Regions from separate parts of the Homo sapiens genome. Here regions 1, 2 and 4 are each reported to be linked to region 3. Evidence: microRNA targets listed by miRTarBase, many of them from high-throughput screens and not tested one by one. Region 3 holds a microRNA gene; each other region holds the end of a gene's coding sequence.
What was found. The annotated mature microRNA hsa-miR-6755-5p reads UAGGGUAGACACUGACAACGUU and lies in region 3 at 2,499-2,520, shown strand. An mRNA with a match to its seed (bases 2 to 7 or 8) in the 3' UTR can be bound and repressed. Matches are read on the target gene's strand: a 7mer-m8 pairs with bases 2 to 8, a 7mer-A1 pairs with bases 2 to 7 and ends in A, and an 8mer does both.

Region 1 (7,390 bases), not on the chromosome of region 3:
CATTCGATATGGACCACCACCTCAGCTCTGCGGACCTTTTGGGCCTCGGCCACTTCCTCCACCCTTTGGTAAGATGATCTGAACAGTAGTAATTGACTTGTAAAGCACATTCATCTTCTCCATCTATCCCTTGCTAAAACAACTGCAATTGCGGGGCTTTGCAATGCAGCAGTGAAGCTGATTGAGTACACCGTAACTTTTCCCCAAGTTTCTTCAGACACAAAGGGTGCTACATAATCTCCTGTGATTAGATGGGCAATAGTTGTCTCTAATAGAACAAGGAAAGGGGCTATTTATAAAAAGCCAGAAATATTCATCACATTGAACATCTGTGGCTGTGTACTAGGCTCTGCAATGGATAGCAAGGTAGATAAAATACATCCCCTAACTAAGATGTCCTGTAGGTCACAAATATACACATTCTACAACATAAAGCTTCTAATCACCCATAATGGAAGCATAAGCAGTAGGTCACAGAATATTAAGGAAAGACAAAACCCTCAACCCTCACCTTGGGAATACAAAGAAGGGAGATATGAAAGAGAAGGTAGAATTTAACAGCTATCTAATGAATGCTGCTGAATTTAATTAGATGGAGCTGGAAAGCCTTTTCCAGCAGGGCAAGCACCTTAATTTTTATGGCATTTATTAGGTACATCTTGAGCTACTGCATAAATTTTTAACTGATACACAGTAGTTAATGGAATTTATCAAAATTTTTATTGCAATGAAGCCATATTTAGTCTGTCTTCTTGGTATGGTATATAGTACTTCCAAGTACAAATCTATCTCTCTTTTTCAGATAAAGATGGCAGGCCAGGCACAGTGGCTCACGCCTGTAATCCCAGCACTTTATGAATCCCAGCATTCATTAGACGAGGCTGAGGCAGGTGGATCCCTTGAGCCTAGGAGTTTGAGACCAGCCTGGGCAACATGGTGAAACCCCCATCTCTACAAAAAATCCAAAAATTAGCTGGGAGTGGTGGCGTGCACCTGTAGTCCCAGCTACTGGGGAGTCTGAGGTGGGAGGATTGATTGAGTCCGGGAGATTGAGGCTGCAGTGAGCCATGATCACTCATTACACTCCAGCCCATGTGACAGGCAAGACCCTGCCGCCAAAAAAAAAAAAAAAAAAAAAAAAGGATGACAGACTATATTAACATACCTGGCATTATCTTAATTTAAATACGTTCCTAGGAATTTACTGGAAATAATTTTTGTTTTCCAGGCCCTGGTATGCGTCCACCACTAGGCTTAAGAGAATTTGCACCAGGCGTTCCACCAGGAAGACGGGACCTGCCTCTCCACCCTCGGGGATTTTTACCTGGACACGCACCATTTAGACCTTTAGGTTCACTTGGCCCAAGAGAGTACTTTATTCCTGGTACCCGATTACCACCCCCAACCCATGGTCCCCAGGAATACCCACCACCACCTGCTGTAAGAGACTTACTGCCGTCAGGCTCTAGAGATGAGCCTCCACCTGCCTCTCAGAGCACTAGCCAGGACTGTTCACAGGCTTTAAAACAGAGCCCATAAAACTATGACCTCTGAGGTTTCATTGGAAAGAAAGTGTACTGTGCATTATCCATTACAGTAAAGGATTTCATTGGCTTCAAAATCCAAAAGTTTATTTTAAAAGGTTTGTTGTTAGAACTAAGCTGCCTTGGCAGTGTGCATTTTTGAGCCAAACAATTCAAAAATGTCATTTCTTCCCTAAATAAAAATCACCTTTTAAGCTAGAGCGTCCTTACAACTTTGAAATGTGCAATAAAGAATACCTGTGTTTTAGCTAATGTAGCATATGTAATTGCAAAATGATTTAGAATGTCATGAAAAATATGAACATTTCCTGTGGAAATGCTTTAAGAACATGTATTTCCATTATCCTATTTTTAGTGTACACCAGCTGAATACGGAGCAATGGTGTTTATAAGCGTTTTTTTAAACTATCTGGTCACAAAGACTGTTACGCTAAAAATGTTTACTAAAAGATCACTAAACTATCTCCCCTCTTGCTGAAGTTCTTTGTAGTAATAGCTCATAAAAATTTGTTTATTAATATTTCCCAAGTGTCTGTTGACTCATTGGACTGTTATGAGGCTTGTGCCATTTGGGGAACATGTAAACTCAGGCTCCCAGAACTGAAGATGGTGGCTGGTGGCACACTTCCGGCTGCTCCTCCGTCACCTGTGAACTCTACAAGTGACGTCTTTTTATTTCAAAGAAGTTTATTTCCCACTTGTATAGCATTCACATGCTTTCTTTACGATCCTCATTGTCTATTTGAGAATGGTTTTCTGAGAGTGAGTTTACATTAGTAGCAAGAGTTGTTTGACCTGATGTTCCATTGTTTTTACCATTCCTGTAGAAAAAGGGTGCACAACAGAAAAATGAAAATGATGTGTCATGGCCATAAAAGTATAGAAATCTTTAAAAATTTTAAAATGTACAGTCCCTTATCTATCTTTCCCATTCCTTGCCACTGATTTTTGAGGAATATAATAAAAAGATTGGAAGAGTATAATGCCATGAGAAAGAATGATTTAGGACTGTGAGGGTTATAACATGCCCTAGGTCAGCAACCAAGGGTTGAAATCAGTTCTGTTTTAGGGGGAAATGGGGGCGACAGATATTATTCCAAAATTAATATTAATTAATATTTAAACGTTGGTGTTTTTATTTAAAAATCAGTAACTAACCATCTGGAATTGCACCATACTTAAAGTCTTATCCATTACTACACTGTCTTTAAAACAATGTTTCTTTAAATACTCTACAACGTTTCTAAGAACGAACTTCAGACATTTTAATTACAGTAATAATAGCACTCCTTTTAAGGAGTTTCAGATCCACACTAAAACTAAAATCATAAAAGGCTGATACTTTTGTTTGCTGCTAGGCTATATTCTTCCATTCTTTGAAGTCCTATGATGTAATATTTTTGAAACCTAGTGTATGTCTTGTCACTGTTGTGATATTTAATCGATTAAGAATACCTTGTAAAAAGGAGCAAAAGCTTCAATGTGAAACAATTTTCTCTCTTTATACTAAACAACTGAAGATAGATAGTTTAGAAAGATAAGGACCTTTGAAAGAAGACAACTCTGTCAAAGTTCATAAGGAATATAAAAATTCTTCAGGAAAAGAGAATTCAATCTATATGTCCTCCCGTTTAATATCAAGAATAGAAGAAATTAAGAGGAAAACTCCACAGAAGAGCATAGGCCACTTTTAGCCATGTAAAAATAAGATTAAGTCACAAATACAACTTTTGAATTTACCTGTCAATATCTCTTTAGGACACAAAACAATGCTGAAGTTAATATAATTTCTAATTTTAAATGTCATTTAAGTGTAGATTATGCCATCTAGGAAGGTAAGTAGGAAAGGTAAATTAAATCTATTTTTAAAATTCAAAATATTAGAGTATTTTTCCCCTCTAAAGCCTTTTTTGGTGATTATTCTGTATCTGACATAATTGAGAAACTGGTAAGCTGTAAAGATTCCAGTGTAGCTTCTCTGAGAAGTTGTGAGCCAGTCCATAACTGCTTCCTCACATCCATCTGATTGCACCATTTCTGCAGCAAACCCCAAAGCAGGGTGCCAATATGCAGATGGCATAGGGAGTATCATCCCTCAGCCAAATCACTTTTCCATCTCTAAAGTTTCATCTATTTTGGAAGTCATCTCCAACTAATTGTGTCTGGATTTAGTTGCTAAAATTGTCTTATTTATGAAGCAGCAATATTCAGCCTGAAAGCATTTCTGCCATAGTTGTTGTAGTTATATCGCCAATGGCTGATTTTTTTCATTGGAAAGTAAATTTAAGTAATTCGTGGGATGTGGTATATTCTGTGTCAACTTCAAGATAATCACTCATTTTCTCGTTATATTCAGGTCTGAATTAAAGTTAAGTTAATCACACAGTGTTCAATTTAAGCTTCTTTAATGTTGATGAAAGGTATTTGTAGTTCATATAAACTATACTTATGTGAAGGATAGCAGATGCTTCATATAAATTATCATTTTGATATACATATCTTATGGTTTATGAGAAAAGAGAAAAAATAATACATCGGTTTTGCTACACTTTAATGGGTTTTTTTTTTAAGGGATTTTTTTTCAGGTCTTGTCAGCAACATCAAACAAAAGGTACTGAGTACTCCACAGGGTACAGAGTGCTGCCAAGCACCTTAGAAAAATTACATGACACGGAGAAAATGCGCCTCTTGCTCCTTGAAGAGCTTACAGTCTAGGGATTTGACAACTCACAGTCTTAGGAACTGGGCAAAGTAAGGCAAATTCTTCATCCCCTAGAGCTATTGTGGACTGAATCATTTTAGAATTTGGAATTAATCCAATCAAGATGAGAGACAAGACTAAATTTGGCTGAGAATTCATTCAGGCTCGCATAGTTTTTATTAACATCCGTCTAGTAAACAGAATGGACCTAACAGACAACTGAAAGTAAAGACTAGATCTCTTGAAGTGCAAGGGCTACAACAACTTAGTTGTGGTTACTTATTTTAAAAAGCAAACATACTGAATGGTATGACTAGGGTGATTACACTAGTTTAAAAATAGGCCAGGTACTGACACTGCATTCCCCTCATGCATTGCTCATTTAAAATAGTGAATATTAAAATATGTGGGCTTTACATCTAACCCACAGAAAGCCCACCGCAAATGTTCTGTGTATCAAATATCCACCTCATGTGTACTATGAAAGTTTTATTTATGCCCCATTAAGTCAAAAGTAAATTATAGTAAGCTAATGACCTGCATATTTTCATATGGATGAATGTCAGTATATCTAAATAGGAAATAAATGGCGATCCTATCTACCTATATAAAAAAAATAGAATATCTTTCCAGATTTTGCATACTCCTCACTGTAAGAAGAGGTATGCAGGTTTTAAGGTTTCACAATCAGTTGTCAGAAAAACAGCAGTTATGCCTGCAGTATCTCGTTAGCATCTGACTCAATTATTTTTAGATTACATTGTTTAGAAGACATTGTAAACCCATCTAAAACTTTGTAATTATTTTGAGATGGTTCCAATGTTAACCCTAGAATCATCATCAGAAAGAGTAACAATGTGATGTAGAAGAACAGCTAATCGACATGACTAAAAATATGCTCATTTTCAGAAAAACAATCTGGTCATCTGGAAACAATCACAGCTACAACCTAGGGAACACTCCCATGTGGGATACTGATCTGGCCAAGGCACACTTTCTAAGCAGGAAAACTATCAGATCAGGGTGAATTTAGGCCACTTCAGAGGTGCTGCCTATAAACATCCAGACAGACCTTCTTAGGCAGCAGAACTGGTCCCATTCCTCTCAAAGCAGTTTGACACTACCCTACCCACATCAACCCAAAGCTTGACGTTAAGTCAAAAGAGCATATTGGAGCAAAAGTGAACAGATGTGTAAACTCTAGCACATTCTTATTGCTGTATTAAGTCTGAAGATGAGCACATCCTACCCACAACAGTATTGTTCCAGGAAGCAGGGTAGGAGTAGTGGTAAATTAGAAAATAGACTATTAATTGCACAATTAATAGAAAAGTAAAAACATGTTTCAAAATCTACAATAAACCTGTATCCCAAGGAGTCCTATACGTCAGTGTGATGTGCTGGACTCTGAATTCTGTGGTACAGCTTTGCATTGGACTCCGTCCGGCCTACTGGTCTGGGTACGGCTTGCTTCCTGCCTGTTGAAGGGTGAATATGCTACACAGAGCTATGATGGTTTCTACTGAGTGGTAAAATTCACAGAAGTTCCAGGTTCATCATGTCAGGATCATTCCTTGTGCAAAGTTTGATGTAGATGAAGATAAAGTGGTTTCTTGGTCAATAATTGCAATTTCTTTCTTTTAAAGTCAGTGGGTTTCTTGTATCTGTAATCACAACAGAAAGACCATTGTTTAAAATACATTGATAACTGAACTCTTCAAGGTTAAATACTGGATATGGGGGATTCAGAAGAAAGATATACTAGTCACCATCAAATTAGTACTAATTCTATATGCACATCACTTACAGTTCTATTACAATTGGCCCAGGTTTAATTTCATCCATCTCCATGAAAGCAAAACACTTGGTGCTGGTAAACCTTTTTTTAGGCTTGTAGTGTTTGAATTCAAAGAAGATAGCTGCACCTAAGGAATTAAAACAAGCCACATAAACCACAGATAGCACATTTCTTGTGTGTCAATTAATTTTCTTTGATCACCAGAAGCATATGAACAGCTACAGCTGGCATAATTTGACAAAACAACTTGTGCCAGTCTCAATGATTTGACAGTAACTTACTATGGTTGTCACCCCGAACTCTTCTGTATCTGAGTAGAGTGACATTTCTCCTTATCATCCAATTCTACAAACTATAGCAAAACTTCTTGAGCTAGACTGCCTCAAGAATGTATAACAGTTATGTACACAGGTAGAATCATAAGCTGCTATAAAATATGAAATGCCACAGAAGAACAGAGAAGATACTTCAATACACATAGAGACTCATTAGGTAGAAAATGCATTTAAAAGAGTTCCTAAAAAAATTTAAGCTCGAATTGTTTCCCTTACCCCAAAACAAAAACTCAAAAATTCAATCTTGGGGGTATTTTGGAATTCAAACAACATAAATCACATGCTGGCTCAGCTGGAAAATGTTATCTGTTTCCTTAACACCTTTTTCAGTATTCAAAGCACTGCTGTGATGTTTTTCCTGGAATTGCATGTTTGTGTCAAGACAGTGCTGTAGAAGACAAAGGTTCAAAGAGCAAATCTATTTATTCTGCCACTCTCCTCCAATGAGCAAGTGATAATGAGAAATTTAGACAGTTCTGGCCGGGTGCGGTGGCTCATGCCTGTAATCCCAGCACTTTGGGAGGCAGAGATGGGCAGATCACTTGAGCCCAGGAGTTTGAGACCAGCCTGGGCAACAAGGGGGTGGTAAGACCCCACCTCTACAAAAAAAATTTTAAAAATAGCCAGGCTCGGTGGCACGTGCCTGTACTCCCAGCTACTCGGGAGGCTGAGTTGGTAGGACTGCCTGAGCCCAGGGAGATTGAGGCTGCAGTGAGCCATGATCATGCCACTGTGCCCCAGCCTGTGTGACAAAGTGAGACTCTGTCTCAAAAAAAGAAAAAAATAAGAAATTTAGACGGTCCTATGTCCCCAAAGTCCAACAGATAAACTCTTCCCCCAATCCTGCAGAAAAAAGCTAAAAATGGAGAAATAAGTTGCCTCATCAATGTGGCCAACAAAAATGAATTTCTAAAGAAGGCATGGAAAGTGAAGGAAGTCAGTGTCTCACTCTTCACCAGCTACTTCTAAATACTGCCTTAACCAGAGCAGTCCAGGAGCTTGGCTTGCAAAG
Region 2 (7,390 bases), not on the chromosome of region 3:
ATGGGTTTATTTGATCAATATATACGAATTATGACTTTAGTACCAAGTTTCCAGTTTTTCCATTCAAAAAAAGACCGAAAGATAAACTATACTGTAATTTGTTTCCTTGCACCATCTAGTGGATTTAAATGACAACTGCAGCATTGCTATAAACGATTCACCAGTCAATCATGTAAGTCAAATTTTCAAACACCTCCGGAGAACTGTTCCTAAAATGATGTTTCGAATCACACCACAACAGTGCATATAATTATTAAAATTTTCCACTTTTCAGAGGATATCAATTAAGCGTGGCTGCTGAATTCATTAGCGAATGTTTAAATTTACAAATAAAGTAACATAAAATAGCATCCTCGCAATTTTTTAATAATCAGAGATAATGGAAGTCATACACTAAGTTCATCCTGTTCCTTTTCATAAACTCAAACGCTCTCAAAGCAGCAGCGCGTTGAGAAGCCCCAAGAGTCTGCGCGGAACCAGTGCGCAGGCGCTCTGAGGGGCGGAAGCGGAGAGGCGGGGCTAGGCCCGACAGGGGAGCGGAAGAGGCCCAGGAGGCTGGGTGAGGCGCTGAGACGGTTTGGCGGTGAGTCCTGGGCCAGGCGCAGCTGAAAGGCCCGCAACCCGGGAAACGTCAAAACAAACAGAAGGACTTGGGATTCCGGAGCAGTCGCCCCTATCGCTGCTCCTGCAGTTGCGGACGCCACCGACCCCGCCGCCGGAGGACTGGGCACTGAAAGGCCTCTAGGCCTAGGCGCGGCCCGCGGAGCCAGACGTGTTGCTGCCGTGAGTAAAACGAGCGCCCTCTCCGCACTCGTTTACAAATTAAAATGGAGGAAATTTCGTTGGCCAACCTGGATACTAACAAGCTAGAGGCCATCGCTCAGGAGATTTACGTAGACCTGATAGAGGATTCTTGTTTGGGATTCTGCTTTGAGGTGCACCGGGCAGTCAAGTGTGGCTACTTCTACCTGGAGTTCGCAGAGACTGGTAGCGTGAAGGATTTTGGCATTCAGCCAGTGGAAGACAAAGGAGCGTGCCGCCTCCCGCTTTGCTCCCTTCCCGGAGAACCTGGGAATGGGCCTGATCAGCAGCTGCAGCGCTCACCTCCGGAATTCCAGTAGCTGCAAAATGAGAGTCTGAAAGTGGCCAGGACAATAACATAGACTGGTCCTGTGGCTTCGAGGAGTAAGCTAAGTAGAAAAAAGTAGAAAAATCAGACAAAAGTTTTAATTCCCCCTTGAAGATCCTAGCATTTAAAAACCCAAAGTGGATAATTTAGGAATCCTTTTTTTAAAGTGTATTACCTGGAGCAAGCTCTGAAGCCCTGGGCAGGAGGAGCTGCACAGCCTGCGGGCCATGCAGTGCCTGTTGATCTCTAAACACACCAGGATGTGCGCAAGATCCTGTAGTGCCCCCAGTGCACAGGTGAGCAGTTGTGTGCCCAGCATATAAAATTTTTGGTTCCTCAGCCTTTCTGTCTGCCTGATGTCAAGGGCTTCTTGGACAGTTTGGACGTTACAGTTCGTCAGGCCGTGATCAGTGGCCTGCAGTGGGACTGCTCCTTTGATATCTGAACCTCTGTTATGGGCTTCTCTGAGACAAGTAAATGTCAGGTGCAAGATCTGGATACTAACAGTTTCAGTTTGGGAAATCCAAGAAAAAGAATTATCAAGTTTGATAGGGAAGCTCTGTAGCCTTGACTCCAGCAAGAAGAAAAGGTCAAAACCACGTGTTTCCCAAAAGTCCAGACTACAATGATTCAGCTGACTTGAGGACAAGGCCTAGCATTTGGCTGAGCAGAGCCCTCTTCCTTGCCCTCCAACCTGGTGGCATAGGCTTGGCAAATGGACAACTTGGTTGTCCAGACAGGTTGAGGATTCGGTTATGATCCCCTGGGGAGGTAGCAGGGACCTCTGCAACTATGCATGATTTCTCAAACTTCAAGATTCATGTCTGGATGTATTATGCTGTGGATATAAGTTTAGTAGGGCGGTCATTTCCTACTCTGAGTTACTGGTTACCTAGCCAGTCCATGGGTGTGACTTGGTCCTTAAGTCAGGTCACTATCTGCCTCCCACCCTGGGGGCAGGACTGAAGTATGGAAGAGCATCATGGCTGTGCAGGAGGCTGTGGTTTGAAAACTGAGCCCAGAGGGCACTTTCAGCTGCCCTCAATAATGTGAATGGATTAGTGCTAGGAGCCAAGGAGCAGGACTGGATTATCTCATCTGACTGTGTGCAGAATCCTGTTGAATGTCCCTGTTTTCTTTGGTTGGGCAGTCAGAGCTCTGCTATGGTGAACATCCAGACTGTCACCACTTTCTGTCTGCCGCTCGAAAGGGATAGTCCTTTCCACTCGGTCCCCTTTGGATCTTCTTGACAACAGGAGCAGTCCTTTTATTGTTAGAAGTCAGAGAAAGACCTCCAGAATCTCCTGACTTTAGGGAATGGTATAGGGGAAGATGGGAAGTAAGAGTCACATATCAAAACTACCCTCCACTTTATTCCCTGAGCGAGGGTTTATGAAGTATAAAGGGGTGGGAGCCCCGAGGTGAGCGGGAACGGTGCTGCTTTATTTGAAATGTTTTCTTACCTCATTCTGTGCCCCAGTAGGGGGTCCAGCCTCATCTGTCTGGCTTGGCCCTGTGTTCCTCCTGTCCCCTGCTCCACTGCCTATCTGGTGCCCCAGGTGCTGCTTGCCACTCCAGCTGTCACATTGAACAGTTTCAATTCAGCTCTTAATGCTCCTGCTTCCGAAGCCTGCCCAATTTCTTTTTTCTTGGCCTCTGTTTTTTTTTTTTCTTTCTTTTTCCCTTGTTTTTGTAGAAGACTCAGAGGAGAATCTTTCTTATGGCTCCCTCTGTTGAGATTGGAATTGGAAGAGAACTTAATTTTTTGTATTTAAAATGCAGTGTCATGCCTATAAGCATTTCTCCTATATAGGACTGCTTTGCTAGTGTGCCCTCTTGCTGTGTCTTACTTCATAAGGAGTTGTATCTTCCCACCTCCATTTCAATACTGCCGGTTAGGACCTAAGTAGAAGAGCAGTAAAGGCTGATTGACACACAGGGGGATGGAGTTGGTCCTTGTCCATTCTCTCACCCTTGCTGTGCATGTATCAATCCTTATCCCAGAAGGTACTATTTAGACTGTATAGACTGATTTAGATTACATACTTTAGAGGATTAAGGAAACCATAGAGTTTGGGCCTTGGAACTGTTACTGCCTTGTCCTAGAGTTGTCCTGATCAGGCTTGGGGCCTAGTTACAGATTAGTCTTAAAGAATTGCATTAACTTAAAAAAAATCAAACCTTGGCAAGAGCTAAAATAATTTGGAGATATCTTTGCCCTTGACTTGTAGACGACATCTAAGAGGATGAAGAAAGGAGAGTCTAAGTGAGACTCTGGCCTACTTCCTAACAATGTCTTGGAAGTGGGATGATGGTAAAGGAGAAAGGCCACAGTCCAATCCCTCTGCCTTCAGATAGGGAACTCAAATCCTGAAATTACTGTTTTCTTTCTGGCCTTTTCTCCTGGTTAGAGGAGGAAGCGGAAAGTAGTTTTGAGTAGTATTTTGTTCATATTACCCCCCTTTTGTTTTTTGTTTCTGGCCCCTCTACCAATAGGGCAGTAGCCTCCTGCCCTGGATGGGTATAAGGTGGGCTTGGTCCAACAGGTGCCCAGAGGGTACATACTCCTTTCTGGGGAGAGAATGCTCCCTACCATATAGTTGACAGTGGTTAGGAACTCTCCCTTTCCCTACCTACCTTCCTTTTAATAGCAGAATTCCTATTTTTCCCTTGATTATGTGTATTGATCACCCTGCAATCCTATTATGTATCTGAGTGTGTGTGTGTGTGTATGTGTGTGTTATGGGGGAAGGGGGGGGTTCTTTAAAATTTCTGTGGTTTGTGGCTTTTTCTTCCATACATTAGTTCCCACCATCGCATGCCCAGGGACCACTGCCTGGCATTATCGCATGCTGGGATCATCGGGGGAGGGTAGTGAAGCTCACCACTGTCCTTTGTTTTGGAGATTTTTATTTTTGCATAAGTAGTCCATCCTATACAGATAGCTGATTAACTGTATTCCCCTTTCCCCTATGGCTGCTGGTGTAAATAAACTGCATCTCCCCATTGGTAAACAGTAATAAAATTTTAAAAAATGACTACTTGGTCCTTGGACTCTGTATATTCATCTTTTAAAGCTGTATGTTTTCAGGCATTGACATAATGAGATAAACGTTGAAATGCTATTGAACCTTAATACTTCCTCCCTAACAGGAGTTTTATCAGAACAGAGAAACTGTCCAACCTTGTTTCTCAATTTGGCCTGCAAATTTAACTGTCTGTAGCATCCAGTGAAAGAGCCAAACCGTATACAATCATCCCTTTTCCATATGAGGTAAGAAGGTGGTAAGATAAATCCAGTCCTGTCACTAAAAGCCCACTGTGACAGATAGTTCCATTTGAATTGAACTCAATATATCTTAGTAAGTACATTTTACCATCATTTTAAGCTAATATCCTTGTTCTCAAAAGGTAAAGTGATTCACAGCAGACGATGGTTCTGCCTAATTTTTTTCTCAATACTTAAAAAATTACCTCAACACTTTAGATCTTTCATTTCATTTTTAATAGTAATTCTGAGGTTTTTCATCCCATTCCTAACCCAGAGTTTGAGCACTTCCCCTAGAAACTACTTAGTGATCCTGTGTCCTAATCAGTCTCTTGCTATGTGTTCTAATTTATTAAAGTTTCGTATTGGACATAATACTGAGATTAATAAAAATTACAGAAATGAGTCCAGAGAAGAATCTGACTCAATAGGATACCTCAGGGAAGCTTATAGATGTGTAACATGGTATTGAGTCTTCTCTTCTAGGAGCACTCGATGTACTTGTCACTGTCCAGTTTAAATAGGCCAGGGCCAACGTGGTGATTTGAGAAAACTTAAAAATTTGACGTGTGAAACCCATGATGTAACCATAGCAGGAGAAATTCTTCAAATGAAATTTCACCAAGATTGGGTATTTTGCCTTAAGTAAGATTTCTACTACTTTTATTAAAATTCACTGTAGGGATCTACTATCAATTAGCTTTCAAATACATCTGCAGCAAATACTTTTGGTTCCTGTTTTGTAGGTTTGGAGTTTAATATATTTAGTGCTAAGCTAATTAGTTTTCTAAAAAGATAATTGCAAGACCCCTGCTTTACCAAATACTTGACAATGGGACTTTGAAGGTTATTTCTTATGTTTTCTGACTAGTATGATCTTTAAAGAAAAAAAAAAACACATTGCATACCTTTTAACTACCAATGTTTAACCTCCTAGATTTAGCATTTAACTACAGCATGTACCATCAGGTCAAGAATCTGATAAATGATTGCTTGATGTTGACAAAGTGAAAGACAAAATGAAGTGTACTGAAGTAACTAAAAATTCAGGAAGAACTTTCTTGTGCACACATTAATAAGTAACATTGCCTTCTCTTAAGACCTATCTGAAGTGTTGTGAAGTTTTTCTTACAATTTTTTAAAAGAGATTTATGAAGAAACTATGTGCTAAAAGCACAACAATTATTAAATTTATTTTCATGTTGTTGTTTAATTATGGTTAACGAATTGCCAGTTTTCAAGTCAGCCAGAGATAATACCAGATTTCAGAAGTTTTACTCTGCTGTGAAGGATTACGAGCTCTCTGATTTTCATTTATGTTCCAAAAGATGCCCATAATGTTGCTTTGGAGGACAGCATTAGAAGTGATGTTCCTATTCAAAAAGGTTTTGTGGATAAACCTTAAACTCTTGGCGGTGTTTTTGTTTGTATTTGTTTTCCCATTTTTGAAAACATTTTCAATCATATTTCTTGAGACTCATTGGAAATATGTGAGCTAAAAAGGAAATACTAAATTGATTTTAGAGATGAAAAAAAAATCTTCAGCAGCAGTGACTTGCCCATAGTTCAAAAAGCAAAAATTTACAAGTGGTGGAAGCAAAAGTAGAATGCTGCTGTTGTGACTCCTAGGTCAGCGGTCTTTGTTGAAGCAATGGAGTAATAAATCAAACGACTAATTAAAAACAAAACAATGAAAAATCCATGATGCTTATGAACAACGTTAGGGCAATGAATTTGAAAACAAAAAAAGGGAAGTCTATTTTAAAATAGAACTCAAAAGTAACTCAAGGAATTGTTAATTTTTTAAGTAAATGAATACATCTATAACTTTTAAAACACCACACAATTAGAATTTTATAGAGAATACAGTAAATGAAACAACAACAACAAAAACAGGCAAAATAATACCAAAATAGATTTTTTTTTTAAATGAAGATGTTAGCAAACCAACTCCTTTAAAATAACAAAAGTAAACATCAACAAGTCAGTTTAATCACAGGATGGCAAGATTTCATCTCAAAATCATCACATTACCATTAGAGAAAATCCATGTGAAAATTTGAACTGATACTGAAAAATAGTTTGAAAAAATTCAATACGAATTATTGCCTAAAAAACAAAGACATTAACAATATAGAAACCAAAGCTCAAGAACTTGTACACACTGCAAAAGGGTATGTACCAAAAATCTACACCAGTTACTATACTTATTAATGAATACTTGGAAGCACTCCCTTTAAAAGCAGGAATGGAAGAAACAAAATTTTTACTGTTCTAAGATGATATTTACATGAACAATTTTATAGAATCTAGAAACAGTTGTTCTCAGATGACATCTACATCTACATGGATAATTTTATAGAATCTACAAACATACCATTGAAAGTAGTGAGAAAATTTAGCACAGTTACTGGATATAAGATCAATATCTAAAATCAGAATACCAACATTTAAAAAGTGTTATTAAATTTAGAATGTAATTCAACAAGTTATAACAGTCCTATGAAATAATATCACAAGAACTGTGTAAGATTTTATAAAGAAAATAATATTTTCTAATATGTTGGGAAAATCCCAAGTAAATGGAGAGAAGATGTTCACGCACAGAAAATGCAATCAATATCATTGCTCCAAATTATGTGAATCGGAAGCAATCTGTATTACAATCCAAATAGATGTGCTCATGGAACTTGACAAATTAATTTTAAGATTTATATGAACACCAGATGCTAGAATAGACAAGATCTTTTTGACAGATGTATATTTTAGTTTTGGTGCAGAAACAATGGAATAGAATAGAGTTTAGAATTAGATCGAAACACACAGATTACACGTTTATGTCTTGATGTGTGGTTAAATTTGTATTATAATCAGTGGAATATAAACCAGTATTGTGGAACAGATTATCCATAAATAATAAAACTGTGCTCAGACACAAAATTAATTCCTATATGGATTAAAGATTTAATGTGTAAAAGTAAAAAATGTCAAAT
Region 3 (7,390 bases):
ATAATAGATGTCATATAGCACTAGGATTTAAAAAGTCTAAATAAAAAAGGTAGAGAAGAAAAATGTGTTGTCTCCTCCCTAATCTTCAAGTGGCCATACTATTAAATTATTTAAATGCCTGTGAACCCCACAGGGCTGCCACCTGTCACTATATTATGTAGGCTGTCCAGTAAAACTCTAGGGGCACTGTTCACTTACATGAGGATTTCTGAATCCTGGTGCTATTTAGTTTAGGCCAGATAATTCTTTTTTTTGTAGGGGGTTTCCTGTGCATTATAAGATATTTAGTAGCATCTTTGGCCTCTACCCATTAGAGCACAGACACATTGTCAAATGTCCCTTCGTGGGCAAACCACTGACCTAGACAGTAATATGAATAGTGCCCACAGTTTTGCAATTTTTTCTCATTGTATTCTTTACCACTTACTGCTTAGGTATGTGCATACAAATTTGATTTTATAGGATAGGAAAAGTATAAGTTTGAAGCCTATTTCAATCCTATCCCCATATGAGTGTCTTGATGTTAAACAACTGCTTTACTTGCCTTCGATTGCCCTATTTATAAACTGAATTCTAAGGCTATTTATGTGAGTTCATCAACTTTCCTAAGATACCTGTTGAGTACCTACTGTGTGGCACAGATACTGGATGAAGGAATAATAGTTAATAAGGTAAAGGAAACCACCTGTGATTAGAAGCGAAATGGGAGACTGCATGGGGAAAGATGAAACTAGTGAAGTAAGCAAGAGCCAGATTAATGCCGGATTCTGAAAAGCCATGTATTCTAATTCTGTGTGTTTGTAATTGACCTGTGCTATAAAACACTTAAAGTCTCTGGGTGTCAGAGTATCTAGAGCTGAACTTGGTTTAACTTGAAAGAGAAATGTTGACTTCCAAAATGAATATTTCAGACAATGTGATTCTTTTGTATTATCGAATTCTGTTGATAATCAGATTTCTTGTCCTTAAGTATGGTCATTGACTGTAAATATAAATGAATGTACATCACTGTACTTGATAGATGGATTAACCAGGTTCTAAGAGCTGTGAATTCCAAAACAATAGAAAAGCCTTGTTTTTACTTTGTAAGATTCAGTTCCTCATTAACATTTCTTTTTCTCATTTCTCTCTCTGTTTTAGTCTTGTGAAAATGCCATTGTGTGCTGGAAACCTGGCAAGATGGAAGATGATATAGATAAAATTAAACCCAGTGAATCTAATGTGACTATTCTTGGGCGATTTGATTACAGCCAGTGTGACATTTGGTACATGAGGTTTTCTATGGATTTCTGGCAAAAGGTATCAACATACTTTTACATTTTGAAATGATCTGACTTATGAAAGACCATTGTAATTCTAGCTTTTTCTGTTGTGTCCATGTTCTTTTTCCTTTACAAATCTACCCTGATGTTTTGTATTGATTACTTTGCCCTTTGATGTCATTCATCAAATACTTTGGTGTTATTCATTCTACTTTTGTGGCTCTGCATATGATCTGCAGTGCTTACTTTAAATTAAGTTGGCAGTTAGGTATCAATGGTGGAAATTAGGTGTTTATGTTCCATAACATAAACATTATCATAACATTACTAAGACTTAATGTTTTAGTAATTAGATTGTCAGTCTACCTATGTAACTGTTTCCTAGAGAAAAATCAGGATAGAAGACAGATAAAATACTAGTTACCTAAAAATTTAAATAAATCTATTGTTAGGATTTTCTGGTAACAAATTACTTGGGTATTTATTTCTGTAAGAAAAGTTTGGAAGGCTTTCCACAGCATTTGCTGTATTTCTTGAAGGCAGAAGAAAAAGTAAGTACCATGCTAACAATGTAAATTTGTAAGGCCCTTCATAAATTTGCACAATGCCTTCTTACTTGCTCAAGACACTTGTGATGTATTAATTGCTCTTATTCATATTTACGAATCAGGAGTATAAGACCCAAAGAAATAGCCAAGAGCACAGAGGCTGGAACTGAGCTTTTTCTGAAACAAGAAAGCTGTCTGAGGATTCCTCCAATGCTTTAGAACCTGGTAATTTTATTAATTTGATGTTTTTAAAAATATGTTTATACAGATGCTTGCATTGGGCAATCAAGTTGGCAAACTTTATGTTTGGGATTTAGAAGTAGAAGATCCTCATAAAGCCAAGTAAGTATTTAGAAATTTCTGTTCAAAATTTCAGGCTTTTTCTCCACACTTGTATGCCAATGTAGAGAAGATCATTTATATTTGCAGTGCCATCCTTAAGTCATTTTTAACATTTACTGTTTTCAGAGTTAAAGTTATTCTTTTTTATTCCAATAATTTTTGTTTTTCCTAAGTACCTTGGTGACAAGTCATTTCTTGTTTTTATACAAATTATGTAGTGCTTGTTGAACTTAAAATATATCTAAATTTTATAAAATTTGAGACTGAGCTCTTAGTGAAGTATATTCTGGTTTTAAGTGCTTTTCGTATGACTTGGAACATCTGCTTATTTTCTAATCCGCTGTTTTAGGGTAGACACTGACAACGTTATGTGTGGTCTTTAACCTGTTGTCATGTTTTTTCCCTAGATGTACAACACTGACTCATCATAAATGTGGTGCTGCTATTCGACAAACCAGTTTTAGCAGGGATAGCAGCATTCTTATAGCTGTTTGTGATGATGCCAGTATTTGGCGCTGGGATCGACTTCGATAAAATACTTTTGCCTAATCAAAATTAGAGTGTGTTTGTTGTCTGTGTAAAATAGAATTAATGTATCTTGCTAGTAAGGGCACGTAGAGCATTTAGAGTTGTCTTTCAGCATTCAATCAGGCTGAGCTGAATGTAGTGATGTTTACATTGTTTACATTCTTTGTACTGTCTTCCTGCTCAGACTCTACTGCTTTTAATAAAAATTTATTTTTGTAAAGCTGTGTGTTTAGTTACTTTCATTGTGGTGAAAAAAAGTTAAAAGTAATAAAATTATGCCTTATCTTTTTATAATGGTTGTTTTTTGTAGTTCTCTTAACCAGAGAAAGTTTTGTAATACAGAGATTAAGTATAGGCTCTAGAACTAAAGTGAATTCAAATCTTGGCTCTCCTACTACGTGACCTTGGATAAACAACTTCTCAATGCTTGGTTCCTTGTGTATAAAACAGGGATAATAATACTTGCCTTGGGGTTATTGTGAGGATCAAATGATTCGTTATGTGTGAGACAGTTAGAACAGTATTTGACATATAATAAGCCCTAAATGTATTCTGTGTTTATAATTATTGGAGATTATAGTTCCTATGGTTTTATATTTTTTAATGATTTCTTATGTAATAGTTTCATAAGTAATATTTAAAATTCTACAGAGTTAGAACCTCTGATAATGTTTAACTGTAACCTTTCTTTATAGTTTAAAAAATATTACTGCCATTAGATTTGGAACTAGGCCATTGGTAACCTTAGAGGAGATATCATTAGGGCAAAGGAGGAGAGGATATAGAAGTTTAAATGCAGTGGGTTGGATCATGAAAGAGATGGCAAGTATGTCCATGTAGTGAGTTGTTGCCCCTTTTCTAGAAGGATGTTACTGGCTAAGAGGGATTAAGTAGATTGAGATCATAAGGTTGGGAATAGTTGGTTATTTTGTCTCCAACATAAGGCACACTGCATTTATTTGTGGGCAAAAATTCCCTAAAGAGTGAAGACCAAGATCACATGTGGAGGGGTTAACTTGAAGCAGAGGAGTGAAGAAAGCCTGAATGATCATAAAGCTAAGGTTGGAGGTGAAATGAGGTGAGCCAGAGAAAAATACAAAAGACTGAATTTTGTCAGGTTTTTAAAAAGATTCATGAACTTGTTTCTATAAATATGTATATTTTTAAAGTTTAGTTTTGATATCTTGTACAGTGTTTGATACTGCCCCTTTTTGAGCTATCTCTGAAGCACAGTTTACTTCTCTGATAATAGTATAATGCTTAAGTCTGAATAAACAGGAAAACTTACTGCCTTTTACTGTCTTGGTCCAATGAACGCTTCAATTGTTTTTTAGAAATTTTAATAGGAACTTCAAGAAGTAAACCTTTATAGCAAGTAAATTCTTACGTACAGCATCACAAAAGACAAGGAATACTGTCATATCCTTTTAGCAAAATGAGATTGCCTAGGTTCTTGTTGCAAAATACCACATAATGAAATCCTTCCTGTTGCATGATTAACTGGGTGAGAATATCATCTTTCCTTTTGGTCCGTAGAAATGTATTATTCACTACTCCATTCTTGAGGTTTGTTTTTTAATTTTTTTGGAGACAGTCTCACTCTGTTGCCCAGTCTGGAGTGCAGTGGTGCGGTCTCAGACGTCTCACTGCAACCTCTGTCTCCCAGGCTCAAGTGATTCTCGTGCCTCACCCTCCCAGGTAGCTTGGATTACAGGTGTGTGCCACGATGCCCAGCTAATTTTTGTATTTTTAGTAGAGGCGGGGTTTTATCATGTTGACCAGGCTAGAATATCGAGTGTTAAAGTTAGTGCAGATAATGAAAGATCCAGGAGTCAGAACTCACAGGCCAGTTATCAGCCACATGTTTATACTCTATTTTTGCCCTCTCTCCTTTCCCTGAAATACTAAGGAAGTAACATCTCTTTTCCTAATGGATGTTATCCAGAGGCCCCAGTCACCAGTTATCTCATTAGCCTACAAAAACACATTATTTTCACTCAAGTGATCTCAAGGTTCTTAGAAGTTATATCAGGAAATGGAAATCAAGAAGAAATTATATTCTCAAGGGTCTTAGAAGTTGTATCAGGAAATAGAAACCAAGAAGAAATTATATATATGTCTTTAATTGACCATTGTGTATATTTATAGGGTACAATGTGATGCTTCATACATGTATACAATGTAGAATGAGCAAATTGGGCTAATATATCCTTCACTTTGTTCCTCATCTTAAAGGAAAAGCCTCCAACTTTTCACTAATGAGTATGATGTTAGTTATTGGCATGTCACACATGGCCTTTATTGTGTTGAGGAACATTCATTCCTTCTATACCTATTTTGTTGGGAGTTATCATGAAAGGGTGTTGAATTTTGTCAAATGCTTTTTCTGCCTCTATTGTGATAATGTACAGTTTTTGTCCTTCATTCTGGTAATATGGTGAATCACATTTATTAATGTGCATATGTTCAAACATCCTTGCATCCCAGGGATAAATCCCACATGGTCATGGTGGATGATTCTTTTAATGTATTGCTGAAGATGATGGTTTGCTATTATTTTGTTGAGTGTTTTTGTATTTACGTTCATCAGGGATATTGTTTCTGCTAGTGTCCTTGGTCTGGCTTTGGTATCAGGCTAATACTGTCCTCGTAAGATGAGTTTGGAAGTATTCCTTGCTCTTCATTTTTGGGAAGAATGTGAGGATTGGTATTAATTCTTTAAATGTTTAATAGAAACAGAAAAGTGCCGTCTTGGGCTTTTCTTTGATGAGAGACTTGGTGTATTAACAGTTGTAATATTTCCTCTTTCATTTCTGATTTGAGTCCTTTTTTTCTTATTAAGTGTTGCTATAAGGGTTTGTCAATTTTGTTTAGCTTTTTGTTTTTTCATTTTTTTATTTTCTATTTCATTTATTTCTGCTCTGATCTTTGTTATTTCCTTCCACTAACTTGAGGTTTAGTTTGTTCTTTTTCTAGTTCCTTGAGGTGTTGAGGTTTAGGTTGTTGGTTTGCGATCTTTTTTAATGCAGGCATTTAATGCTATAAACTTCCCTCTTAAAACTGTTTTTGCTGCATCCCATAAGTTTTGACATGTGTTTCCATTTTCATTTGTCTCAAGGTATCTTTATATATGTTTCTAGAGTCGGGGTCTTGCTATGTTGTTCAGGCTTAGAGTTCAGTGGCTATTCGCAGGTGCAGTTATAGCTGTCACTGCACCCTCGAACTCCTGGGTCCAAGTGATCCATTCCTGCCCCAGCTTCCCAAGTAGCTACGACTGTAGGCATGCATCACTGTGCCAGGCTTTCAAGACATCTTTCATTTTCTCTTGTAGTTTCTTTTTTGACCCAATAATTGTCCAGTATATTTCTTACACAGTGTCTTAGGAAAGATAAAACCAGCTTTGATATGTTGAGTATTATGTTTCCGAAAAGACAAGACAGGGTTGTTTTTCTTAACTTTATACTTGAAAGTTTCAAACATATAGAAGAGTGAAGAGAGTAGTGAATACTATGAACCAAGTCAAGCTTCAACAATTATCAATACATAGCCAATCTTGATTTATCTATACATCTACACCAGATTGTTTCGAAGCACATCCCAGACTTTATTTTAACTGTAAAAATTTACTCTATATTTCCAAGAAAGACTTTAAACAAAATATCAATACCATGCTCACCCTTTAAAAAGTAATTTCTAAATTATATATGCAGTTTATTTAGAAGTATAAAGAAAAAAGTAAAAACTACCTTTAATTTTTGTACACAGAAATAATTGCTTTTAGTGATGGGATGTATTTTGTGTGTGTAAGTTTAAAGAATTGTGATTGTCTGAATATATTGTTTATATGCTGCATTTTCAGATTCCCAGTAATTCTTAACAGATTATTCTGCTTGCATATCTTTTAATACATTTCCATGAATGTACCATTATCTATTTAATGCCTTGTTGTTGGACATGTTCATTTCTTCCAGATTTTTGCTATTATAGGTAGTATTTTGAATAACAGGCCAGTACACAAGTCTTTGTGTAACTCTCAGGCTCATTTTATAATTAGATAGGATATTTCTTTCTTATTAAGTTTGTACCAAATTACACTTGCCCCAACACATATGGTAGTACCCATTCCAGTTTTGTTGTTACTAGTTTCCTGTATATTATCTCTGCAGATCAGGGTGTTTTTTCTGTAAAGAGCTAGATAGTACATATTTTAGGCCTTGCCATACAGTCTCGTCATAACTATTCAACTCTGCTGCTGTAGGGCGAAAGCAGCCGTAGACAACTGGGTATGGCTGTGTACCAATAAAACTTTACTTACCAAAACAGGCAGTGGTGGAGCATAGTGGCTCATGCTTGTAATCCCAGCACTCTGAGAGGCTAAGGTGGACAGATTGCTTGACCCCAGGAGTTCAAGACCAGCCGGGGCAACATAGTGAAACCCCACCTCTACTACAAATACAAAAAAAAATTAGCCAGGCATGATGGTGCATGCCTGTATTCTCAGCTACTTGGGAGGCTGAGGCAGGAGGGAAAAAAAAGAACAACAAACAACAGGCAGTTGGCTAGATTCTGTCCACAAGCCATAGTTTGATAACCCCTTCAGTGGATACTAGTTATTAAAGCAAAACAAACAAAATAAGTCTTAAGGAGGCCCCTAAAGTTGTTGAAGATTTAAGTCAACCGAATAGTTTATAATCAAAGATCACCAGATTG
Region 4 (7,390 bases), not on the chromosome of region 3:
CCGCGCGCTTTGTCCGGCCCGGGACACGCGGCGCCCCCTCCCCCGCCCGGTCCCTTTGTTCTCGGCGCCGCAGCCCCCGCGGGCGAAGCGAGGGGAGGGGCGGGGAGGGGGCGCCGGCCGGGCCCTGCCGCCTTCTTTGTTCGCGGCCCCGGTCCCCGGCGCTGCCCCCCGGCCGCCCCGAGTGCCGCGCGGGGAACAAAGGCGCTGCTGGGCCACGCCAAGGGGGCGCCCAGGGGCCGCGGAGCTGGGGCCCGGCGGGGAGCGCACTCCACCCGCCGACCCGACCTCGGTGGCCCACGGTCTTTTTTTTTTTAAGGGGGAGCCGAGATGCGGGAGAGCCTGGGGTGGGTGGGGGCCACTTACACAAAGCGGGAGGCTGGGAAAATAGGCCGTCCAGGTGCAGAGAGACAGCGCCCCGGGGCGGCTTCCCGCCCAATGTCGCCTAGAGCGGCTCGCCCGCCTGCCCGGGATCCGCACAGCAGATCCGGAGCGGTTCCGCGCGGAATAGAGAGCGCGCCCCGGGGGACGGGGGTGGGGGCCACGGGACCCCAGCGCCTCCTGCCGGTCGCGCCCTCTGCGCGCTCGCTCCCCGCGCGCCCGTGAGGGGCGAGAGGGAGGTGTTTGACGGGATCCTGGGTGTGGGTGAGGCTGAAGCCAGACTTTCGGGTTGCAGTAGAATCGAATCGAGGACCCCTTCCTCTAGAAGGGATCAGAAGCGGGCTGGGGGAGGGGGAGCCCCTGCCCTCATTGCTATTCCCTCTGCCCTGCAGGAGAATGGCCACGTGAAAAGCAATGGAGACTTATCCCCCAAGGGTGAAGGGGAGTCGCCCCCTGTGAACGGAACAGATGAGGCAGCCGGGGCCACTGGCGATGCCATCGAGCCAGCACCCCCTAGCCAGGGTGCTGAGGCCAAGGGGGAGGTCCCCCCCAAGGAGACCCCCAAGAAGAAGAAGAAATTCTCTTTCAAGAAGCCTTTCAAATTGAGCGGCCTGTCCTTCAAGAGAAATCGGAAGGAGGGTGGGGGTGATTCTTCTGCCTCCTCACCCACAGAGGAAGAGCAGGAGCAGGGGGAGATCGGTGCCTGCAGCGACGAGGGCACTGCTCAGGAAGGGAAGGCCGCAGCCACCCCTGAGAGCCAGGAACCCCAGGCCAAGGGGGCAGAGGCTAGTGCAGCCTCAGAAGAAGAGGCAGGGCCCCAGGCTACAGAGCCATCCACTCCCTCGGGGCCGGAGAGTGGCCCTACACCAGCCAGCGCTGAGCAGAATGAGTAGCTAGGTAGGGGCAGGTGGGTGATCTCTAAGCTGCAAAAACTGTGCTGTCCTTGTGAGGTCACTGCCTGGACCTGGTGCCCTGGCTGCCTTCCTGTGCCCAGAAAGGAAGGGGCTATTGCCTCCTCCCAGCCACGTTCCCTTTCCTCCTCTCCCTCCTGTGGATTCTCCCATCAGCCATCTGGTTCTCCTCTTAAGGCCAGTTGAAGATGGTCCCTTACAGCTTCCCAAGTTAGGTTAGTGATGTGAAATGCTCCTGTCCCTGGCCCTACCTCCTTCCCTGTCCCCACCCCTGCATAAGGCAGTTGTTGGTTTTCTTCCCCAATTCTTTTCCAAGTAGGTTTTGTTTACCCTACTCCCCAAATCCCTGAGCCAGAAGTGGGGTGCTTATACTCCCAAACCTTGAGTGTCCAGCCTTCCCCTGTTGTTTTTAGTCTCTTGTGCTGTGCCTAGTGGCACCTGGGCTGGGGAGGACACTGCCCCGTCTAGGTTTTTATAAATGTCTTACTCAAGTTCAAACCTCCAGCCTGTGAATCAACTGTGTCTCTTTTTTGACTTGGTAAGCAAGTATTAGGCTTTGGGGTGGGGGGAGGTCTGTAATGTGAAACAACTTCTTGTCTTTTTTTCTCCCACTGTTGTAAATAACTTTTAATGGCCAAACCCCAGATTTGTACTTTTTTTTTTTTTCTAACTGCTAAAACCATTCTCTTCCACCTGGTTTTACTGTAACATTTGGAAAAGGAATAAATGTCGTCCCTTTAGTGGTGCTTTAATGAGTGGTCTTCTGGGGGTAGGGTGAGAAGATTGGTGGAAAGTAGTTTACCTCAAACCTCAAGGGAGGAGTTAAGGCAGGCAGGTAAGTTTATGGGGTTTTCTTGTTCAGGGGGTTGCCCCAATACTCATGGACACCAGAACGGCAGGGAAGTAGAGTTGAAACCAACCCAGGGACACATAGGAAACAAGCTCAGGAGGATATAGAAATGTACCATTTTATTACAAAGAGGCTCACAAAAATGAAAATAGTATCTCAAAAAGGAAACTAGACTAGCAACCTCCACCTGCAGAATTAGGAGAAGACAGACAGAGGGCAGGCAGTGTTTCTTGGCTCACTTGAGGCCAGTGGGAAGGTACGAAAACAGAACCAATCTAAAAATGGCTGATGTTACTTTAGGAGCCTGAAAAAAACAGGAGATCCTTGAAGACCCAGCCACCCCTTCTAGAATGTTCAATAAGGGCACCTTTCCAAAGCTACTAAGCAGGCACTTGGCATTTCAGGAGTTTGTCTTATGGTTGCATAAAAGTATCCCTTTCACCCAGACCTGGCACCCTTTATGGTTCAAAGTTAAGAACGGGAAGAATGGGTGGCAAGGTGGCTCCTGGAAGAGCTCACCCAGCACAGCTGCCCTGAGCTCGGGGCCTTGGTTTCTGTCCCTGGGGATATTTATATTTAATAAATTTTTATATAAATACACAGAGAAATAGAAAATATAAAATCTGAGGGGTTGGGGAAGAAACGTGAGGGACTCAGCAGGAAGCCAGAGCTGGAGAGGTCCATTCAGGCCAACTTGACCTCCTCCTTGACCCTGTGGAGAGAGCAGAGACTGGCATGAGATGACCCAGCCCAGAGCCTCAGGGCAAAAGTGCAGACAGTGACTTCCACAGGATCCTAGGTGACTACTGGGGGCTGGGGCTCCTAGCTCTGCCTAGAACTGCAGAGCTGGACAGACTGGTCCCTGAAAGAGGCCTTTGTAAGCTGGACCAGCTGTCCCTGTGCCTTTCCTCAGAGTGGTGGGACAAAGGGGCTGGTGCTCCAATGCCAGGGAGATGGCCACAGGCAGCTCCTTCCTCACCCTTTGGCTTCTGGCTTCTCCTCCTTGGTTTTCTCCTCTTCGGTGACTTCTAGAACACAAGAGTACAGGGATGGCCAAGGGCAGCACCTCTGGGAAGACCCATGAGGTCTTCATTTACCCTGAGACCCCTTCCCCAACACTACAGCTCACTGGACATAAAGAGAGAAAAGCCCATCCCTGGTCCTCCCAGTGAGCCCTGTTGAGAACAGGTTGGACTGGTTTCCCAGCCTGCTACAGCCAGAACCTGGTGGGCGGAGGCAGCCCCCTGGGAAACTGGGGTGCAGTGCTGGGAAAAGGGCTGGGGTGGTATGTGAGAGCCGTGCTCAGGCAGTAGAGGTTCATTGTTTTGTGGGCTCTGCCACTTCTGGGAGCCACTGAAAGGCTCAAGGAACTGAGGAAGAGCCCCACAGGAGCTGGCAGGGCCTGAGTCACTCCCTCCTCCCACTGCCCTACATAGATTCATCCTCTCAGGCTCGAGACCCAAGTCCCAGCTGAACCCAAACCCACCTTTCTTCTCCTCTGGGTCTTTCTCTTTTTCATCCTCTGTTTTGACTCTCTTGGCTTTTTTGAAGTTGGAAGAGTTCTTGCGGCCCCCCTCTCCCTCCTCTTCAGAATCGGAGAACTCTTCCTCACAGGCAATTCGTTTGTCAGAGGAGCAGACTGGGAGGGAGTGGGAAGCATGGGTGAGAGGGCAGGCGGGTGCTGATTTAGCTCAGCATCTATGCCCAGTGCTTCCCTGCGTGTCCTCCAAGAGACACCAAGGGAAAGGGAACCAGAAGAGGGAGGAACTCGGGCTCCCTAACCTGTTCCTACAGGCACTGGAACTCGAAAACAGATTTCTCTACAGGTGGGGAGCTTGGAGGGAGTGTGCAGCCAGGAATGGTGGTGGAAGTGTGAGCTGCCTATTGAATGGAAGGCATAGGGCTCTAGGTCTGGGTCTCACTCGAGATGCGCTTGTCAGGGTCGTCTTCGTCCTCATCGCCACTCTCCTCAGGGATGGCGTCCTCAGGAATCGCCTGCATTTGGACCCCAGGTGCGTGCGGCAGCATTCTAAGGTTCTCAAACAGTCGCTGTCTGTGGCCAATGGGAGAGAGTAGCAGGGCTCTGGTCAGGGACAAACCAAAGTCAGGAATGTTCAACCAAGGGGTGGCTGGAGGATATACTCACTTGATCTTCTCCAGGTACTCATTCGTGTTCTGGTTAGTCATATTGGAAGGACTGATGTGGAGCTTGAAATCTGGTCCAAAGTATTCAAAGTAGTCATTGTATGGAAGCTCTGATTGGGGCAGGAGAGAAGACCGTCAAGAGACCTGGCCACCGCACCCTAACCATTTGCACGTAAGCACCCTAAAGCATTTGTAGGTTTCTCTGGGCCTATTTATCCAAACAGAGGAGAATGCCTCCAAGACACTGTGAGACACGGGTACCTATGGGATTTCCATCTTTTTAACATCACTCTCCTATGTCTGTACCAGTGGTGTATATGTCGCTAGGAGAAGGCCCATGTCCCTGGTTTAGGACACTTGAGGCCATGCTCATTATGAGCGCTCCCTTCACTCGCTACTCCAGTTACTCTACAGAGTAGAAATTCCAAAGCTGTAAATTACCAATGAGAACTTTGTCCAGACCAAAAGCAGGAGGGAGAGGGGAGAGAGCTAAAAAGGACTAGGGAAAAAGTGATGGTTATGGTCTGCTGATCACAAGAGGACAGGCAGGAGACTCAGTGACTAGTATCAGAAGAGGAGCGGTCATATGACCAACGGGGAAGGGGTTATAAACTTAAGGACAGATGAGCTCCAGCTCCCACCCAGCCCAGCCGAACCTGGCCCTGCAGCTATTACCATTAGGGATCTCCGTATCCAGGGCCACAGCTGTCTCATATGTCCAGCACCGGGCAACGTTACGAATGGTGTAACCACCGCCTCCCAGCATCAGCATAGGCAGGTTAAAGCTCTTGACAAATTCCACACACTTGGCGTGTCCTTTGGTGGGAGAAGGGGTGCTGAGTTACAGGAGCACCAAGCAGGACCCCGCCCACCCATCCTTGTGCTACCTGGTCTCACCTTTGATAGTTAGATTGAAGCAACCTAACCGATCCCCAGATAGGGAGTCTGAGCCACACTGTAAGACCACCGCACTAGGCTGGAACATCTCCATTACTTTGGACATGACCTAAAATGATACATCCTGGTCACCACCAACCTCAAGAAAGCAATACGAGGTTTGGAGTGGAAAGGCTGGGTGCAACACTTTCCCACCCACTCCTACCTTTCCACTCTCCCTCATGCTATGTGGGAGAGAAAAGGGAGTGCTAGGCTGGAGCCCTTGCTTGCCCACTTGGGATTTCAATTTTCCAATTTAAAAAGTTCTCTAAGACCCTTCTAACACTCTAGTAACACTGAACCTAGAATGGCCTCCCTCTCAACTCCCTAAGTCTCTTCTGTTGCCCAAGCTCTAGTGCCACTTCCTCCAGGAAGCCTTCCTGACCTTTAGCTGCATCTACTCTACTCATTCGGTCTTACAGACTTGAAGCCTTACATTATGAGCAAGCACTTTTAGTTTATCTTATTCTCACAAGCAGAGTCTAACGTTACTGAGACCGAGACCACAACTCCCACTTCTGTAGCCCTTATTAAATACTAGGCACATAGTGGGCAGTCAGTGTTTGCTGAATGACTACCTGACCTTATTAGGTTAAGCAGTTTCTTACTGTTTATAAGTGAAGATTTAACTCCTTGGCATGGCATTCAAGGCTCCCTTTGAAATACTGAGCCCAGCATACACTTCCCACCGCCTCCTTCAGCACTCCTCCCATACACCACACTGGCCTACATGCTGCCACACTGGCACCTCTGCACTTCTGCTAGTGCCATTCCTTCTACTAAATGCCACCCTTACTGCCATCACCTCCTTCTTCACATGGGCACCTCCTCATTTTCCAAAGTCCAGCTTAAACATCAGCACCTCTGTGAAATCATCCCTGGCTACCCTCCTGCCAGCCCAGGCAGTAGTTTGTCTCTCATTCCTCTGATCATCCCTCAAAAACACAGGCACTAGGCCAGCCTACCCATGGAACATGCCACACAGCCTTTCCAGAATCTCTGGATGGGCTGACTGGCAAAGGGCTTTCCCAGACAAAGCCAGTCTGCAAAGACTGGAGTAAGTCCCTACTTCTTCTAATGTGCAGACATCAATGTAAGGCAATGAGGAACACAAAAAACCAAGGAGACATACCACTACCAAAAGAACACAATAATCTCCCAGCAGCCCAAAGAAATGGAGATACAAAAACAGTACTAATCATAGACTACTGGGTATGTGCCTGCCTTCCCCACCATAGTCCGTGAGGGCAAAGATCATGTCTTAGATATTTTTGTATCCAGCAGAAGACCTGACCCATAGAAGGAACCAATAAATATGGGTGTTTGTTCCCCTAACTGACCACACAGCAATCCAGGGTTCAAACACTTCTATCTCCCCACCAGCTTTAGTAAGGAGAGATTCCTGAGGTATGGTGGGGGTGCTTTGCTCCCCTCCACCGCCAACCAATCCCCTGTTTGTAGCCCAAGGGGTGGATAAAGCCACTTACCGGCTTGAAAATGGCCTCATAGGACTCGTCATCAATCCCGTCTCGGAGCGGGTAGTTAACAGCATAATACTTGCCTTTGCCAGCCCCGATATCCTAATTAAAAAGGCCATTAAAGTAAAACTGAAGGATGAAGCTTGAAGGAAGGTCAAGGATAGGGGCTGGAGGGATAAAGGAAGAGGTTCAAGAGAGACAAGCTAGGCCCATGATGTGGGCCAGGACAGAACAGAGGTACCTTGTTAGTACCATTCTCTTCACTGGCAAATCTAGCTTCACTGGCAAATCATCTCTGGACATAGCATTAAGCCTACCCCCAGACTGAGAGCTCTTGATGGGACCAGAGATTGAATAGCCTACCCTATAGCACAAGATTTCTACCTTGGGATTGGGTTAGAGCTGGCTGGCAGGTGAGTCACAGAAGTGACAGCCACCCTTGACAACCCTTTCCACTCCAGAGAGCTCTAATGCTCACTCCTCTTCCCCCATGCTCCCTCTCTAGGGTGTTGTGGAGGGAAGGAGAGAGGTAAGAAAGTCCTTCCCAGTAACCTCAAAATAGTGAGTGCGCCTATTTAAGTCCAGCACTTTGGGAGGCTGAGGCGGGTGAATCTTGAGGTCAGGAGTTCGAGACCAGCCTGGCCAACATGGCAAAACCCCATCTCTTTTAAAAATACAAAAATTAGCCGGGC

Region 1: miRTarBase lists AIDA as a target of hsa-miR-6755-5p. Seed matches in the 3' UTR shown: 7mer-m8 at 5,520-5,526.
Region 2: the mRNA of ATXN7L3B is a reported target of hsa-miR-6755-5p. Seed matches in the 3' UTR shown: 7mer-m8 at 2,489-2,495.
Region 4: the mRNA of MARCKSL1 is a reported target of hsa-miR-6755-5p. Seed matches in the 3' UTR shown: 7mer-A1 at 1,617-1,623.

What each region holds. Positions count from the first base shown.
Region 1 is chr1:222,664,081-222,671,470 of GRCh38, forward strand. It overlaps AIDA (axin interactor, dorsalization associated), which reads right to left. Exons shown (of 10, transcript NM_022831.4): 9 at 6,053-6,170; 10 at 3,933-5,909. The coding sequence ends at 5,813. It overlaps MIA3 (MIA SH3 domain ER export factor 3), which reads left to right. Exons shown (of 28, transcript NM_198551.4): 27 at 1-68; 28 at 1,229-3,927. The coding sequence ends at 1,539. Among named protein-coding and RNA genes, the nearest start is that of AIDA, 45 kb to the right of the region's middle.
Region 2 is chr12:74,537,286-74,544,675 of GRCh38, forward strand. It overlaps ATXN7L3B (ataxin 7 like 3B), which reads left to right and starts at 550. Exons shown (of 1, transcript NM_001136262.2): 1 at 550-7,390. The coding sequence starts at 828. The coding sequence ends at 1,121. RefSeq lists enhancers at 765-814, 1,484-1,573.
Region 3 is chr11:86,275,840-86,283,229 of GRCh38, forward strand. MIR6755 (microRNA 6755) reads left to right here and starts at 2,494; the gene lies at 2,494-2,559. EED (embryonic ectoderm development) reads left to right here. Exons shown (of 12, transcript NM_003797.5): 10 at 1,141-1,299; 11 at 2,079-2,152; 12 at 2,560-2,971. The coding sequence ends at 2,686.
Region 4 is chr1:32,328,478-32,335,867 of GRCh38, reverse strand. It overlaps MARCKSL1 (MARCKS like 1), which reads left to right. Exons shown (of 2, transcript NM_023009.7): 2 at 771-2,029. The coding sequence ends at 1,271. It overlaps HDAC1 (histone deacetylase 1), which reads right to left. Exons shown (of 14, transcript NM_004964.3): 7 at 6,708-6,800; 8 at 5,182-5,290; 9 at 4,960-5,100; 10 at 4,286-4,394; 11 at 4,062-4,192; 12 at 3,626-3,778; 13 at 3,119-3,167; 14 at 2,242-2,851. The coding sequence ends at 2,824. It overlaps LOC124903949 (a long non-coding RNA gene), which reads right to left and starts at 491. Exons shown (of 2, transcript XR_007065661.1): 1 at 364-491. RefSeq lists silencers at 1-23, 154-233, 374-813, 5,584-5,784.